Homo sapiens: one gene and its partner. The protein of the gene in region 1 interacts with the protein of each later gene in a pairwise test. Each region holds a gene or a part of one and is shown in the gene's direction. Other genes may lie near its edges. The genes, in order: RHOBTB2 and RHOBTB3.

Region 1 (7,775 bases):
AATCTGCATCCTGGCTCTTACGAAAGCTCCCCTGCCGGTCCCAGGGAGTTCTCAGTACAATCAAGGACAGAGAAGAACCCAATGATAGATTGGTGTGATTGGTATTATTAGGGGAGCACAGGGGAAGAACAGGAAAGTTACACTTTGTCAAGTGTAAGAAAGTATTCATGGAAGGCTTGCTGGAGGAAGTGATATCTAGGCTGAGACTTGAAAGATGAGTACACATTTATCTGGTGAAAGGAGTAGAAATAGAGTGTTCGGACTGAAGAACTGCTTGTGCAAAGTCCCAGAAGCTTCCTGTATCCTTGTGGGGACCTGATGGTGTCCCTTAAGGCCTGGACAGGGAGGCTGAGAGACTCTAGGCTTTCCAGATTCAGCTCCTTCACCCTGCTGGGGCTCTGCATCTTGAAATGCCTCTGCTTTTGCTCATGGCTGGTTCTGAACTTTGCCCCAGCTGCAGGGTAGGAACACCACGTGCCCCAGCCTGCACATGGCAGGGGATGGGGGGCGGAGCTCATGTCACAAGGCCCATGGGGTGGGCTCCGCAGAGGCTGTAGTGTTCCAGGAGAGGGGTGCCATGAAAGCGCGGTTAGTAGCCTGCAAAGTGTTGAAGGGTAAAGCTGCCTGTGAAGCAAAGGGAAGGTGCAGGTTGGAGGATGGACTGAGCCAGGCGGTCTGCGTTGGGCTGGCACTGGGAAGGGGCCTTCACAGCCACAGGGAGAGCAACGCTGGTGGGACTGGCCGGGGAGCCTGCTGCGCTTTGCTAAGAGCCAGGATGGAGGTTTCTCTTTCCCCAGAAAAGCCTCCTGTTCACAGGCAGGCATCTGCCCGGCTTCAGGAAAACAGCAGCCGCGTGATGGCCTGGAGGAGGGTGGTGTGGGGAGGCATAGAGGGGGTGCCTTCTGGGGACAGGTTCCAGGGGTTTATGTCACTGGGGAGGTGGGTCACAAGAGGGATTTGGTGAGGGAAGAGATGCTGGGGTTGGGCAGGGGCAGGAGATTGTAGAATGGAACCTGCCTCCATGCTGCCAGGAAGCCCTTGGGCTACAGCCACGCAGCCAGGCACATGGCAGGACATTGCCAGACCCACCAGCAGAAGCAGATTTGGGAAGCCAGCAATGGGGGGAGTCAGTGCTCAGGCTGAACTGCTCCTCGGAATCACACCAGTGTTTCCAAGCTGCAGCAAATGGGCAGAGAGGGCTGGTGTGTGTGTGTGTGTGTGTGTGTGTGTGTGTGTGTGTGTGTGTGTGTGTGTGTGTGTGTGTGTGTGTGTGTCTGTGTGTCTGTGTATGTAACGGAATGGAGGAGGCAGAGAAAGAAAGAGGCCAGGAGCTTTTGTCTCCCACCCAGGCCTGCCTTGAGAAGTCACCTGAATAGAGGAAAATGGACTCCTCAGGGCCTGGGGTGGGAGGGCGCAGTGAAGGGAGTGGGAGGCTTCCTGTGCTGTGAGACGCTGCTGCCTGCCGGGTGCTAACAGCTGGGGACAGGGATGGGCATGAGAAGGCCCAACAGCACCTTGCTTGCTGGTGGGGAAGCCTGGCCTCTGGGAGTGGCCCTGTTTTCCAGGATCTGGCATTGGAGAGATGGGCAAAGATGAAGGGACGTGCCAGATCCTCAGCTGGGGTACCAGGGGCTGGAGGCTGTCTTGAATAGCAGAGTGGGGGTCCCGGGGCAGTCCTGGCCAGGGCTGGCTGGGAAGAGGCCTGGTTTTAGCCACAACTGGGGCACAGGCCGGCGGCTGCAGCTTGCTAGTGGTCTGCCCCTCATACAGCGTGGGGAATGCTGCCATCTGAGCTGTGAGTAGTGAACCGCTGGAGCTCCTCGCAGGCTGGCCTGAGGAGGAGGTCTGCAGAGGTCCCCAGACGGCCTAGGGTGGGACATGGATGGGGCGGCTTGACAGTGACAAGGGGCTGCAGAGGATGGGCTGGGGGGCACTGGTAGGAGAAGGTGGGGACTTGGAGGAACTCTGATGATAAGAGGGAACTGATTGGGGCGCCAACCATGACAGCCCTAGAGGTGAAATGATGGGGAAGGACTTTGATTTGGAGAAAGGCTGAAAGAGGGAACTGCATGCAAAAAGCAGGGCTGGGAATTGAGGGAACCTCCCCAGCAAAGCTCCTGCCTCTGCCTGAAACAGTTCACTGAGTGTGAGCGGGGCGGGGCGGGGGCTGTGGGGGTGCAATTTCATTTGACACCCACATTTTTGTCCAAGACCCTTCCACCCCAATCAACACTACACCTTGGAATTCACACAGTCCAGCCTGGTTGAGGCTTCCAGGCTGAGCTGGCTTTTTCTCCCAAGGCAGAAAGGGCATTGGCTCTAGCTTACAGTCCGAGCAGCCACCCTCTCCTGCTTCATGACTTTGGGTGGACGGGAGTTCTGTCTTCCTACTCCTTGCTCCACAGGGGCTATGGTCCTGCCAGGACAGGTGAAAGGTGATGTCAACTGGCATCTGGCATTCAGCTGGTCTCTGGAGGTGGGTGGAGGGAACAGGGTGTCCGTGGGAGAGACCCTGGCCTGCCGTGGGAATCATGCAGAGATCTCAAGTTATGATTTTCTCTGGCGCAGGGGCTCTTTGGCACACAGAAGATGGGGTAAGTCTCTTCAATGCCAAACATGTGGAGGAAGAACATGTGTGAGCATGGTTTACTTTCTCTCCTAAATATGTATTCAAATAAGTACTTTCTGGTTTATGGAGGGTGAGTTCTAACCAGAAATGAGAAGTAAGTAGCACTGTCAGTCATTGTTAACCTCTTGGCTAGCTCTGAGTAGATTGAGAAAGGGGTGGGAGAAGCATCCTCCAACAACCGAGCACTTCCTGTACATTGACCAGGTAGGTAGGCACGTTGATCACAAACACCTTGAGGGACAGCTTCCAAGTATATGCATTCACAGATGAGAAGCATGCTTCAGACAACACAAAATTCATTTTTAACCCGGCTTTCTTTTGGCAGTAAATTTCTCTTCCTAATCATATTTTGCATAAACTAATATTAGAGTGGATTTGCATTTTCAGAGCACAAGATGGAGGAGTGGTGGAGGCGGTTCAGGTGGGTGGCAGGCTGGTCTGGGCTTTAAAAATTGTCCAGAGGTAACTGAGGAGATGAATCAAACCAGACTGAGCTGACTACTTAACACTAGCAGTCAAGATCATCCTGGCTGGGCATGGTGGCTCACGCCTGTAATCCTAGTACTTTGGGAGGCCAAGGCAGGCAGATCACCCGAGGTCAGGAGTTCGAGACCAGCCTGGCCAAGGTGGTGAAACCCCGTCTCTACCAAAAATACATAAATTAGCTGGGAATAGTGGCGTGCACTTGTAGTCCCAGCTACTCGGGAGGCTGAGGCAGAACTGCTTGAACCCAAGAGGCGGAGGTTGCAGTGAACCAAGATTGCACCACTGCACTCCAGCCTGGGCAACAGAGGGAGACTCAAAAAAAAAAAAAAAAAAAAAAGATTATCCTGATAAAACCAGCCTTGAATATGGAAAGTGTCTTCTAGGGACCCCTCAGGTTATAGATGTTATACCTTAGAATCTCTCTATTTTACAGAGGGGTAAATTGAGGCAGAAAACCCAAAGAAGGCTTAGGGACGATTTTCGAGGCTACTCACTTCATGGTGTTTCTTTCAGAGATTAGCAGCTATTACTGAACTCCAGGAGGCAACAGGAGGGGGATGGGATGGAGGTGGGGACCCGCTGAAGAAGGCCTAGGTGGGAGACAGGTAACGTGGTACAGGTACCCACCCCACAACTCATTAAGGGCCATGGAGGGAGGAAGGCTCTCAAGTGCCACGAAAATTCCCAAAGCAGCAGAGGGCTTGTATGGAAACGCCGGTTATTCGTCCCTACCCGGCCCCCGCCCCCCGCCCCCCCGACTGCCCCTGCCGTCGCCTCCCCGTGGGCAAGTGGTGGGGGCCTGGGCTTACAACCACACGTTCTCCTCCAACTAGCATCCCTTCCAGGGTGCACTAGGATGCCTCTCAGAGGTTCTCCCCCGCCTCCCGAAGGAAAGGGGAAAACCCCGTGGGCGTCCGGAGAGCCTTTGCGCCTCGCCAGGTGGAGGGACCGGCGCCACCCAGACCCGCGAGCCGAGACCCTCCCCGCGGCGTCGCTGCGGGAGGGGCGGAAGAGCGCGGGCGGTGGGCGGGAGCGGTGCTGCGAGGCGGGATCTGCGGGGCGTCCAATCCCCTTCTTCCCCCGCCCGCCCCCTCCCCGCCCCCCGAACGCTTTCCACCAACTGCGCGCGGCAGTGGGCGGGGCCCGTCACGGCTGTCGTCTTGGGTGCGATTTTTTTCTCCTCCTTTTTTTACCCTCCCGTTTTTTTCTTTTCTTTTTTTTTTCCCTATCCTTTTTTTGTGAATGAAAAAAGGAGGTCGCGAGCGGTACCTGGGACTGCAGCGCCAGGCGTCTTCGCGGCAGCGCCTTCGCCGCGGGCCCGGGCGCGTAGCGGCGGCGGCCTCGCCCCTCTCCCGGCGCCCCTGCGCGCCGCCCGCTGCCTCCGCAGCCCGGCTCCGCGCGCCGCCGTGACATTGGGCGCCTGGCGCGCGGGGCGATGCTGATCCGGAAGGGGCAGCGGCTGCAGTGCAGCGCGCGCGTCCGCTCCTGGGCCCACGTCCGGCCTGGGCTGCCCTGCCGGAGTTTCTGAGTGGCCGCGAGCTGGCCGGGAGGCTGGAGCCCAGCAGCAGCGCGGCGGCGCCGGCGTCGTCCCAACTTGCAGGCGCGGAGGGACCCCTGACATTTCACTAAAATGAGCGTGCTCAGCAGGAAGAGATGTGTTCCTCACGCTAGAAGCCACCCCGTCACATGTAGTGGTGTAAGTAGATGGCTGCTTGCGGTTATGGCGGGGTGGCCAGCAGCCCTTGCAGACGCGCCGCTCCGCCCTCCCTGCCCTGCCGCGCCCCTCGCTACGTTCCCCGGGCCCCGCTAGTCCCTGGGCTCTGGCTTCGGCTGCTGGGTACAGCGGGGCTGGAGCCTAATCCTTTCCGGTGTTTCTAGGGAAAGGAAGATGACTTGATTGCTTCGGCCTGTCGTGCCCCTCCCCCTTCTCGATGTTTAAAAATTTTTAAATTTCTATTTTGTGTGTGTGCAGAGTAGCGTGTCAGAAAAAAGGAAAAACGGTCCAGAGTGGTGGGAGTGATTCTGTTAAGAAAACAAACACAAAACAACAGTGGAATTGGGGTGTTTTGCTGGCGGTTCCGGAGCTGGTTCTTTGAACTCAACTCCATTGCAGTCTATGTAACTGAGTTCTGTGAAACTACTGGGGAGATCTTTGGCGGTGTTTGGTGATGTGTCCACATTTTAGGTTTGAGGGGGCTTATCTGTGTTTAGGCTTGCATTTCTTTAATCTGACCATTCAGGGTCCCTTTGGGCCTTGCTTTCTGTTGGATCTGCACGGGGCTTCTTGCAATGCCAGCGACCCCCGTGGGAGCCTCCCCGAATTAGGAGTCCACTCTCTCTTTGTTCTTCTCCTTCCAATTCTCCATTCAATCCATCTCCCTTGATTTTACCTTCATTTTCAGGATTTTCCTCCCATTCCCATTTTGTAAGATGATGTGGGATACTGGTTGCTAGGAGACAAGCCAGGCTCCCAGGGAGATTCTGTTGTTTCCTTGACAACCAGACTAGGGCAGCCACAGATGAACAAGCCTCCTATCAGCTGTGGGAGGGAAAGGGGCCCTTTCTGAGCTCTGCAAAGAGTGTGTGTAGGGGTGTGGGGGTGGGACTGGGAGAGCACGAGGTTTGTAGCTAATTTCAGCACACCTTGGGTTTTGGCTTGCACCAAGTACAAAGAGCTGGGAGAGCGGTGGGCAGGAGGCTGTTTTTGGAGGGGCACAGGGATCATGGGACAGGGATGGAAGGAACACATGCCAGTGACTTTGCGATTGTCATGGAAGAGGAGTGAGTTGGGGGTTGTGATGCCCAGGGCTGGGTGGTGAGGAGGTCATAGTTTATGGAGGTTGATTGAGTGGGGATGAGGCAATTGTGAGGGAGAGTCTGGAGTCAGGGAAGAAGAGAGAGCCGGAGGGAGAGGGGAAGCTGAGAGGCTCACTGAATGGGCTGTATCACCATATATCAGCAATGAGTGGGCTGTATCACCATACATCAGCAATGATACAACATCAGCAACATCCTAGGGCAAAAATTATATTACTCTTGGCACACTCTCTCCAGGACAGGATCCTCCTTTAAGACAGGCCTGATTAGACTAAGAGTTCTAACACTTGAATTGGGCCAGTCTGTATCTTAAAGACAGATATAATTACACATATAGATATGCAATCTAGCATTATATAATACCACATTACATAAGAAGACAAATACCTCCTTTCAGCCCAGCCTCTCTTGGCACAAATTAACCACGGTTCAGGAGACTCTTCCAATGTCTTCATACCCATTTCCCAGAGGGGGAGACTGATGCCCAGAAAATATAAGTGACTTGCCTCTTCCTAGATAGGACAGTGAAGTTTGCCAGTCAGGCAGTTGGGACAGGGTAGAAAGGGTGAGATGATACAAACAGAGAGGCAGCTGAAGGACAAGGGGACTGCTGAAGGGGCTGGGGAATGGATGGAAGGGGTTGCGCAACCCAGAAGGTCTGATGTCTAAACTCATGGCACAGTATTTGTCAATTTCCACTTGTTGATTGGCTGACCACTGCTTAACTCTAGAGGTGACATAGCACAGGTGGGCAGCAGTGTTTTCATCACAAAGTAGCTGAACTTGGCCCAGCACTGCTCTGCTGGTGTTCTGGCATTATTCTCACTGTCAAGGTGCTCCTGAATTTGAGAACTGGCATCCCTCCATTAGGCCTCCTCATTCCCCCGCTTCTGTCTACAGACCTACATGCTGGGAGAATCGGAACTTGAGAAAGAAGTTCTTTTGGCTCTTGGGTTTTAATCTTTATCCTCCAGCTGCACATATTTTGTATTTGGGATTATATCTGTTTTGGTATTCACTCGACAAAACAGAAACCACAGCCCAGATGCTGCCTCCTGGCGCCAGCACATTCCTCAACTTGAGATCAGGAACTGTCAAAGTGGGGTTCCCGGTCCTCAGTTCAGGAGAGAGAATTGGGAGGAGGAAGCCTGTGGTTAGAATAACAGTTCTTAACAGTTCTCTGGGCCAGGTGTGGTGGCTCACGCCTGTAATCCCAGCACTTTGGGAGGCCAAGGCGGGCAGATCACTTGAGGTCAGGAGTTTAAGACCAGCCTGACCAACATGGCGAAACCCCGTATCTACTAAAAATACAAAATTAGCCGGCATAGTGGCACACACCTGTAATCCCAGCTACCTGGGAGGCTGAGGCAGGAGAATCACTTGAACCCAGGAGGCAGAGGCTGCAGTGAGCCGAGATCATGCCACTGCACTCCAGCCTGGGTGTCAAGCGCAAAACTCCGTCTCAAAAAAATACAAAAACAAAAAACGGTTGTCTGCTGAGGGAGGGTTAGGAGAGAGAAGGGGTGGTACAGTTGCCCTGGAGACCATGAGGGCACTGCATGGAGACCTCGTTGAAGGGTCCAGATCCTGTAACATTCCAAAAAGGCGGAGGAGGTTGTCTCATTGAGAAGTCCTTGCTGCACTTTTTGCTTAGGTTGCTGAGATGCATCCACTCGCACGGATCCCAGTTGCTATCGTTACTTGGATATTTCGGTCTGCATCCCTGCATGCTGGCATCCAGTTACAGCCCAGCAGGAATGGAGCCTCCCTGTTGTTGCTGGTGGCCTGGCTCTGGGCTGGATGGCTCAGCAGCCAGGGTGCCTGGGCAGCCTCCAGCACTCAG
Region 2 (8,191 bases), on another chromosome or scaffold:
TATTTTAGATATTTTTATCTTGGCAAGAAGAAAACTAAGAGTGTGTTGCTTTTTGACTTTCATTTTTAAGACAGCTCAGAAGAGACTTTGTAGCATTTATTCTTGGTGACTTTTCTTGGAAGTATTGACTTGTATATAGTACACTACTTAAACATGCTAGAAACTTTATTGAATTCGCCTTCAATACTTTGGTGTTTAGTTTTTAAGTTGCTAGCTAATTGTAATCAGTTCAGAATATCATTGTCTATTAACTATAATATGCACTTAGGGTGAAATCAATGTTAGCAAGAATGGTTGTAAATTCATACTTAAAACAGTGTTCTTTATAATCCATTATTTTGGTCAACTTCTTGGCAAATCTGATTAGTCGTCGGTTTTTTACCTTGCAATGTGGCTCCCAAAGAGTATCAGAAACATCAGCTTGGCTGGGGGTTTTTGCTTGTGCTTGCATTTTTAACACTGTCTCCCTTGGTTCCTGCTGTAACAGTAGTTTACTTAAATATCATTCATAAGTCTCCTTAGAAACAGAAACTGCAACATGTGGCAATATATTGAAAGTGAACAAAGGAGGCAGCCCTCCCGCTGCCCCTCACTGTGTATCCTATTGCTGCCATGCCCCCAACACTCCTTGTATCTGCCCACTTACTGGTCAACCTGGGGTACCAGCATCAATCCCAACATTAACTAGTAGTAAAGCTTAATTTCGTTTCCCCCCTTTTTTTTTTCAGTAAAAAATAATGTGTGTGATTAGAAGTTTATTCTGGAATTTCAGGGATCATCTTCTGTACCCCACCTTGAAGACTCTGGCTCTAGATAAGTAGTCTTAAAAATTGCGTTTGTTTTTAACCTTAGAAAACCCATCTTTTTAATGAAAATGAATATGAAACTTTAATATTTTTTTAAAAGACAGCAATAAGACTGCTCTGATTGGCTTTAAGATGCCTTTGTCAGAGTTCAGATCTCACTGCTTACTCTTTTTCTGCCACCTCCTCAAGCTGATTTGAAGATTCTTCTATGCAAACCTAGTTTTCCTTAAAACATAGTTGGAAAAAATCTTCTGCCAAGCCGAGATCTCTAGGCCTGCCCTCACCAATGCTTACTTCCTCTCCAGCTGTTAAGGAACCAACACGTTTTTCAAAAACTGGTATATGAATATTCACAATTTGGGGACTAGTAATAGCCCACTGAATTACTTTACATGTCCTTACTGTACTTTATGCTACATCTTATTTAGGGATAAAAACATCTAATAGAGTAAATATGAAATGGTGGCATTTCAGCCACTAAAATAGGAAAAAAATATTGTTTGGGTTGGAAGCCCTTCCTGTGTGTTCCCCAGTGACCTTGAGGTTGGAGGACATGTGATATCTGTTCTGTTAACACTGGTAAAATAAAATTTTTTAAATGTGCTGATGAGAGAAACTGCAAATACATAAACCAAATAAAAATTTAAAATACAAGGGAAATAACTTTAAAAAAGTGGTCATAAGAAAATTATGAAAAGATCTTTAGGATATCAGGAAATGGACCATCTGTGATATTCTTTTAGCCAAGATAAATAACACTAACTGCTGTAATAATTGACCTCAAAATGTCTGGCTCAACTCACTGAATATCTATTTATCACTCAAATCACAGTACAATGCATTCTGTGAGGAGGCTCTGCTGTAACTAGTCATTCAAGGACTGGTTCCACACTGCAGTGCTAATAGCTTCAAACACCTGGCTTCAAGGTTGACCTGACTTCATGTGGTTGAGACAGGAAGATAAAAGAGAATGGAGAGACACACTTCTCTACTGCTCAGCAGGGATCATATTCCGTTGATGAGAACTAATCATGTGGCCCTACCTATATGCACAAAAGTTGAGAAACGTCATTTAGCTATCTTGGAAGAGAAAACAGGTTTGGTGAGTATGTAGCCAGGCTTTGTACCAGATACTCAATTTGTAGCTTAAGTATCACCAGGTATGACTCCAGAAATCTCTTGGGAAGCCTCCACCACTCTTTTTTCTGCCTGCTTTAATATAGAAACCTTCATGCCAGCACTAACTTCATCTCTTGCTGTTCCTAAGACAAGCCATGATCTTCCATTTCTTTATACCTTTGCATGTGATGTCTGTCCAGTTCTTTGAAATACTCCTTCCCTTCTAACCTCCTCTTCTTCCAAATCTAACAAATTCTTAATCTATTAAGACCTAAGACAATGTTTACTTTCTTTATGAACTTCTGACACAGAAAGCACAGATCTCTTCCTAACATTCACTGAACTTATCTTTTACTTTGTACCTATCTCTTTTACTGACTGCCTTTGTACCTATCTCTTTTACTGACTGCCTAGGCCTAGGTCTAGGAACTAGAATGTTTTCAAAAGGATTGAGTGTGCTAATATTCACAAACTAATTAATATGTCAGAGGGGTCTGAACCAGAATGACTCCATCTTGAGTAGAGGCTGGGTACACTAAGGCTGAAACCTACTGGGCTGCATTCCTAGGAGGTTAGGCATTCTTAGCCACAGGATGAGATAGGAGGTCAGCACAGGATACAGGTCACAAAGACCTTGCTGATAAAACAGAATGCCGTAAAGAAGCCGGCCAAAACCCACCAAAACCAAGATGGTGGTGACAGTGACCTCTGGTCAACCTCACTGCTCATTATATGCTAATTATAATGCACTAGCATGCTAAAAGACACTCCACCAGCACAATGAGTCTACAAATGTCACGGCAATGTCAGGAAGTTACCCTATATGGTCTAAAAAGCAGAGGAACTCTCAGTTCTGGGAAATGCCCACCCTTTCCAGAAAAACTCATGAATAATCCACCCCTTGTTTAGCATATAATCAAGAAATAACTATAAGTATACTCAGTCGAGCAGCCCATGACACTGCTCTGCCTATGGAGTAGCCATTATTTTATTCCTTTACTTTCTTAATAAACTGGCTTTCACTTTATGGACTTGCCCTGAATTCTTCGCTGGAGGTCCAAGAACTCTCTTTTGGAGTCAGGATTGGGACCCCTTTCTGGTAACAAATTGCTTTAGCTTCTTAAGGTCAATGACCAAGTCTTATGTACCTTGGGATCTCCTATGCCTACCCAGCACAGGCTTGGCTCACCTATTGAGTAACTAAGGAAAAAATGAATACTTTCTCCCTTTCTGACACTTCCAAGTTGTCAGCAACTTTGGTGTCTATTTTTGTTTCATTTTTGTATTAATATTTTTATATTGTCATAAAATATAACAATAGTTACCATGTTAATCATGTTCTAGTGTTCAGTACACGCTCTAGTGTTTAGTTAACAATGTTCTAGCGTTCAGTTCTATAGTTCAGTATAGTACGAACTATATATGCACCTCATGCAACAGATCTCTGTAACTTTTTCTTCCTGCAAACCTGAAACACTATACCTGTTGAACAACGCCCCCTTTTCCCCTCTCCCCAGCCCCTGGTAACCATGATTCTACTTTCTGTTTCTAAGAGTTTGACTACTTTAGATACTTCATATAAATGGAATCACTTTTTGTGATTTGCAACTGGCTGATTCCACTTAGCACAAGGTCCTCAAGGTTCATCCATGTTGTAGTTTATGAAGGAATTTTCTTCTTTTTTAAACGCTAATCATCCATTACATGTGTATACCACATTTTCTTTATCCATTCATCCATTCTAGTGTCTTTGTTTTTGACTTATGGGTTTCCGGAAAAGACTGATGAGAAAATATATTTTCTATTAACCCAAGAGAAAAAGTGATCTTGCATGCTGGAATTTTTAAGGATGGTTTAGGTTCTAGAGACTCAAAGAGAAATCGTAGAAAATGCAAAGGGAAATTAGATTAAAAAAAAAAACAGTGACCACATAAAGAATATCTCCCATTATATCCTCTCTGAGCACGAGAAACTATTAAACTACTTTCAACCGAGCAATAAGGGCCCATAATAAAAAGCTGTTGCCCTAGTTTTTTTACTGCCCTACTCAATACCCCCTCTTTCATACCCTCAAAATAGCTCAGCTGAGAAAAGAAACAGTCCAATTTTACAGAAGGGAAAAATAAACAGATAAAAGGATAAGCAAGAACTCTTTTCAACACAGAGTAAGGTACTGGTTAGAATTTTAATACTGTATGGAGGAGTCTAACCCCAGAGTAATCCCTGGCCCATTTTGGTGTTAGTAAGTGGATCCCAGTGTTCGTTTGTATCGAGGTAGTTTGAAGCACGTTAGGGATATTCATAGCCTTTACTTCAGTGCATTATTATGAAAGAATCTAAAGTATCTTTGCATTTACGTGATTATGTTTTCAGTTGGTCTGCGGAGCTATTATTAAATATGTGGCCATAACGTGTACAGAAAAATCTCCAAGTAAACTGGCATTTAACTTACCAACACGTTAAACCCCCATACATAACTTCCTTTAAAAACGATCACACTAAAAATCCCAGCATTTAAAATCCTGAAGTTTTCGGTAAAATACGCTAAATATAGCTTGAAATAGTAAATAATCCCCCCAAGGCGACATTAGCAAATTAATTGGTGTGTGAACAAAGAACTCTTTCTGCAGCAGCATGAATGTTGCCTTTATTTTTTCTCACAAGTATGATTTTAGAAAACAGCTGTAGCGCATGTTGACAAATGAGAAAGCGGCAGACGTGGTAAAGCACTTTCGGTCAAGGCCAAGAGGGGGGGAAATCGGGTTGCTGGGGCGGCACTCGGGCTGGAATCCCTAGCTTCCCTAACCTCCTTTTTCCAGTCCGGAGTGAGCGGGGGCCCCATCGCCCCACCCCCCTTTCCTGGCTCTGGTTACGGCCTTGCGAGTTGAACAAACTTGCTGCAGGCGGATTGGCGGCTGGGAGCTCTCGGGCTGGGGCGTTGTATTTATTAATTTATATTCCGCGGCGCCCCGCGCGGGCGGCTCCTTTGTGTCCAGCCGCCGCCACCGGAGCTCCCGGGGCCTCCGCGGGGAGCGCGTCCCCCGCATCCGCCCGACCCCCGGGGCTGGCACGTGCTGCGCCCGGTCCGCTGAGGGGGCGGAGGCCCCGATCTCCCCGACCCCCCTTCTCTGCTTAGAGGAGGAGGAGCAGCGGCAGCGGCAGCAGGAGGCGACAGCTGCCAGCCGAGGAGGCGCGGCGGAGAGGGGACTGCGGTCAGCTGCGTCCACTTGGGGCTGTGCGGCGGTCCCGCGCCCGGCGATGTTCCCGGGCACTCCCTGAGTAGCGGCAGCTTATCCCCCGCCCGCTAGCCCGCCCTGGTCCCCGGCTCGCTCGCTGGCTGGCGCGGCCCCGGCCCCGCTCTGCGTCGGCCCCGCCGCGGTGGAGGCGCGCGAGGGGGACGCGGCCGGGGATGAGCGGATTGCGGGTGAACTCGCCGCCCGGGGGCCCCGCGAAGCCGTGAGCCGCTGCTTTTCTCCGAGTCGCCGCCCTGCCCTTGGATTTGAGATCATGTACGTACGCGCCGCCGTCCTGCCATTGTCTCTCTCCAGCGCGTGCCGTGCGCCCCAGGGACAGGGGCTGGTGCCCATCCTCGCCGCGCGCTGTCCCCCGCACTTCCTGTTCCGAGGAGAGACCCGCGCGCTGACCGTGCTTCCCTTCTCCCCTCGCCCCCTCTGTCCGTGCAGGTCCATCCACATCGTGGCGCTGGGGAACGAGGGGGACACATTCCACCAGGACAACCGGCCGTCGGGGCTTATCCGCACTTACCTGGGGAGAAGCCCTCTGGTCTCCGGGGACGAGAGCAGCTTGTTGCTGAACGCGGCCAGCACGGTCGCGCGTCCGGTGTTCACCGAGTATCAGGCCAGTGCGTTTGGGAATGTCAAGCTGGTGGTCCACGACTGTCCCGTCTGGGTAAGGAAGAGCAGCTGCTCCGCGCTGAGGCTGAAGAAGCTTTTCTTTCCTTTTTTTTCCCCCTCCCCCTTCTGCCCACTTCCGTGAGTGTGGAGTGTCCGCGTTACATGGGTCAAATTTTTAAACATTTTTGAGAAAATCTTTGGTCCTTTGTTTCACTGGGCAGGGAACAGCCCTGTCAGAGAACACTCTTAGGAAGATAGAAGGCCCCAGTGGGAATGTGGAGCACTTACTGGTACACTTCACGACTGTGGGTTGACCCTTGGTAGGCAGCAGACAGTTGAATGTGCCAACTCCAAGGGACGGGGTCACTAAGTTTCATCAGCAAAAAGCAGTGTTTTTTTATGTCTACCCTATGGGTGATAGTGTAATATTGGTGTTCTAAAAATACATCCCTCTCAAAGCTCAACACAGGCAAAAATACTTTTCACTGGGACAGTTCAGAAATAGTTCCTCTGGAAAGCGGAGGAAAAGACAGGGACTGGGAGTTAATTTTAAATGACTCATTTATAGCACTATTAATTGATCTCTGAAAACTTAATTTTAATAATGCAAATACTCTTTATGTGTTAGCCATTTGTCTTAGTGACTCATAAATCAGAAATAACATTACTAATGTTGTTTGGAAAACTTTTAAAAAATTAAAATTTGTAATAATTGAACAAAATAGTAGTGAAGTGGATAAATTATAGTCCGATTCTTGAGTGTTTGATTAAGGGAGAAAGGAACTTACTTTCTGACACATATAAATATTTTCAGCATACAATAACATTATGTTTGAATGTTTTCCTTTAGTCTTATTTGAAAATCTTTGATTCTTTACTGATATTGGAGTTACGTATGTTTCAGCTAAATGTTACATTTAATAACAGAAGAAAGTTTAGTGCCTGAAAAGATACAAATTATCGTTGTGTAAGATTTCACATTTAAACAGCAATATTAAAAAAACTGAATTAGGACTATAGGAAAGTATCACGCCATTCTAAAAAATGTGTAGAATATACTTGGAAAAATTTCTTATGCAAAGTTCCACATAACAGAACGAAAAGATCACTCGCTCGTGTAAGTTTTCAGTTAAAGAAGAAAGTTATGTTAATTTGGTAAAATAAAAAACAGGCCTTTTCAATTAAGAGATACTATTAAACCCCTAGTTATGATAGTGATGATGCTGTTCATAAGAAGTATTGATGGAGAACTTACTGGTCAGAGTCTATGCAGGCAAATGAAACACTTCTTTTACTTGGGATCTTTCGTTGTGAAAGATCTTACAGCCTAAAAACATGACGGTTCAACATGCAGTTGAATAAATGTTTAGCGAATCGAGTAAATGTAGGGAAAATAAAACTAGCTACATTAGGATGTTAGGATTGCTTTCCCGTATTTAATTTGAGCTGTTAACACTTTCCTGTTTATACTGTTAATTTTGCAAACAGTAATGCTTGTGATCCCATACACTTTGTCTAGTAAAATGAAATCTTCCAAATGGAGAAAATAAACCTCTATAGTACGGATTTTTGCCATATGCTGGTTGTTATGGTTTATCTTGCTAATAACTTTTTGTTTGGTTAGACTCTGGCCCTATTTAAGGCACCAAGTTTGTAACCAGGTACAATTTTCTAGGTTATAATGATCTTCAGATATGAGATTCCATTTCTAGAGTTGCTCTTTATAAGGTGCTTTTCTTCACTTGGTGGTAAGTAAAGCCCATCAGAGATTCTAAAGCTGATTGCATTAATCAACTGTTATTTGACGTATGTACGGAACCAGAATATTAAATATAGCAGAGCAGATAGAGCATAGCCTTTGATATCAAAAGGATCTGATTTCAGATTCCCACATTGCCATTTCAGGTCTGTGTGTCCTTGTTAAATCACTTACCTTCTCTCAGCCTTATTTTCCCTATCTATAAAATAATATGCCTCCTAAAGCTGTGCTGAGAAGTGAATGAGAAACTAGCACGTGTCAAGTTCTAAGTATAGAGGCTGGCATTTAGTAGATGCTCTATAAGTGGTAGCTAATATAAAAATAAAGTGTTACAACTTTAGTTATGTATCACTTATATTAATACTAAGCAAAAGTAAGATTTTCACAGGTCATTCAAGATTTATACAACTACAGTACCAGTACACTGGGGCAGCGATGTTCATACTTCATACATGCAGCCCCACAATCAAGTAAAATAAAATAGTTTCACTGTAGAAATTCAGATTTTTTTTTTTAAAAGATGAGTTCAATTCTCCAAATGTGGCTCCAAGCCTTGTGTTGCATAACCCCGAGAGGAAACCCTGGAACTGATTTACAAGGGGTGGGAGAATTTGATTTTCTTCATAATTCTAGAAATCTTTGGAGTATTTTCT

Evidence for each region.
Region 2: the proteins of RHOBTB2 (region 1) and RHOBTB3 interact in a two-hybrid assay, tested with the Homo sapiens proteins (one study listed by BioGRID).

Annotation. Positions count from the first base shown.
Region 1 is NC_000008.11:22,995,295-23,003,069, forward strand, and holds the start of RHOBTB2 (rho-related BTB domain-containing protein 2), read left to right. Parts: upstream 1-4,253; 5' UTR 4,254-4,811; intron 4,812-7,775. UniProt on the Homo sapiens protein: Regulator of cell proliferation and apoptosis. It likely functions as a substrate-adapter that recruits key substrates, e.g. MSI2, to CUL3-based ubiquitin ligase complexes for degradation. Required for MSI2 ubiquitination and degradation.
Region 2 is NC_000005.10:95,726,251-95,734,441, forward strand, and holds the start of RHOBTB3 (rho-related BTB domain-containing protein 3), read left to right. Parts: upstream 1-5,085; 5' UTR 5,086-5,432; coding exon 5,433-5,434; intron 5,435-5,442; exon of another isoform or gene 5,443-5,608; coding exon 5,609-5,834; exon of another isoform or gene 5,835-5,852; intron 5,853-8,191. UniProt on the Homo sapiens protein: Rab9-regulated ATPase required for endosome to Golgi transport. Involved in transport vesicle docking at the Golgi complex, possibly by participating in release M6PRBP1/TIP47 from vesicles to permit their efficient docking and fusion at the Golgi.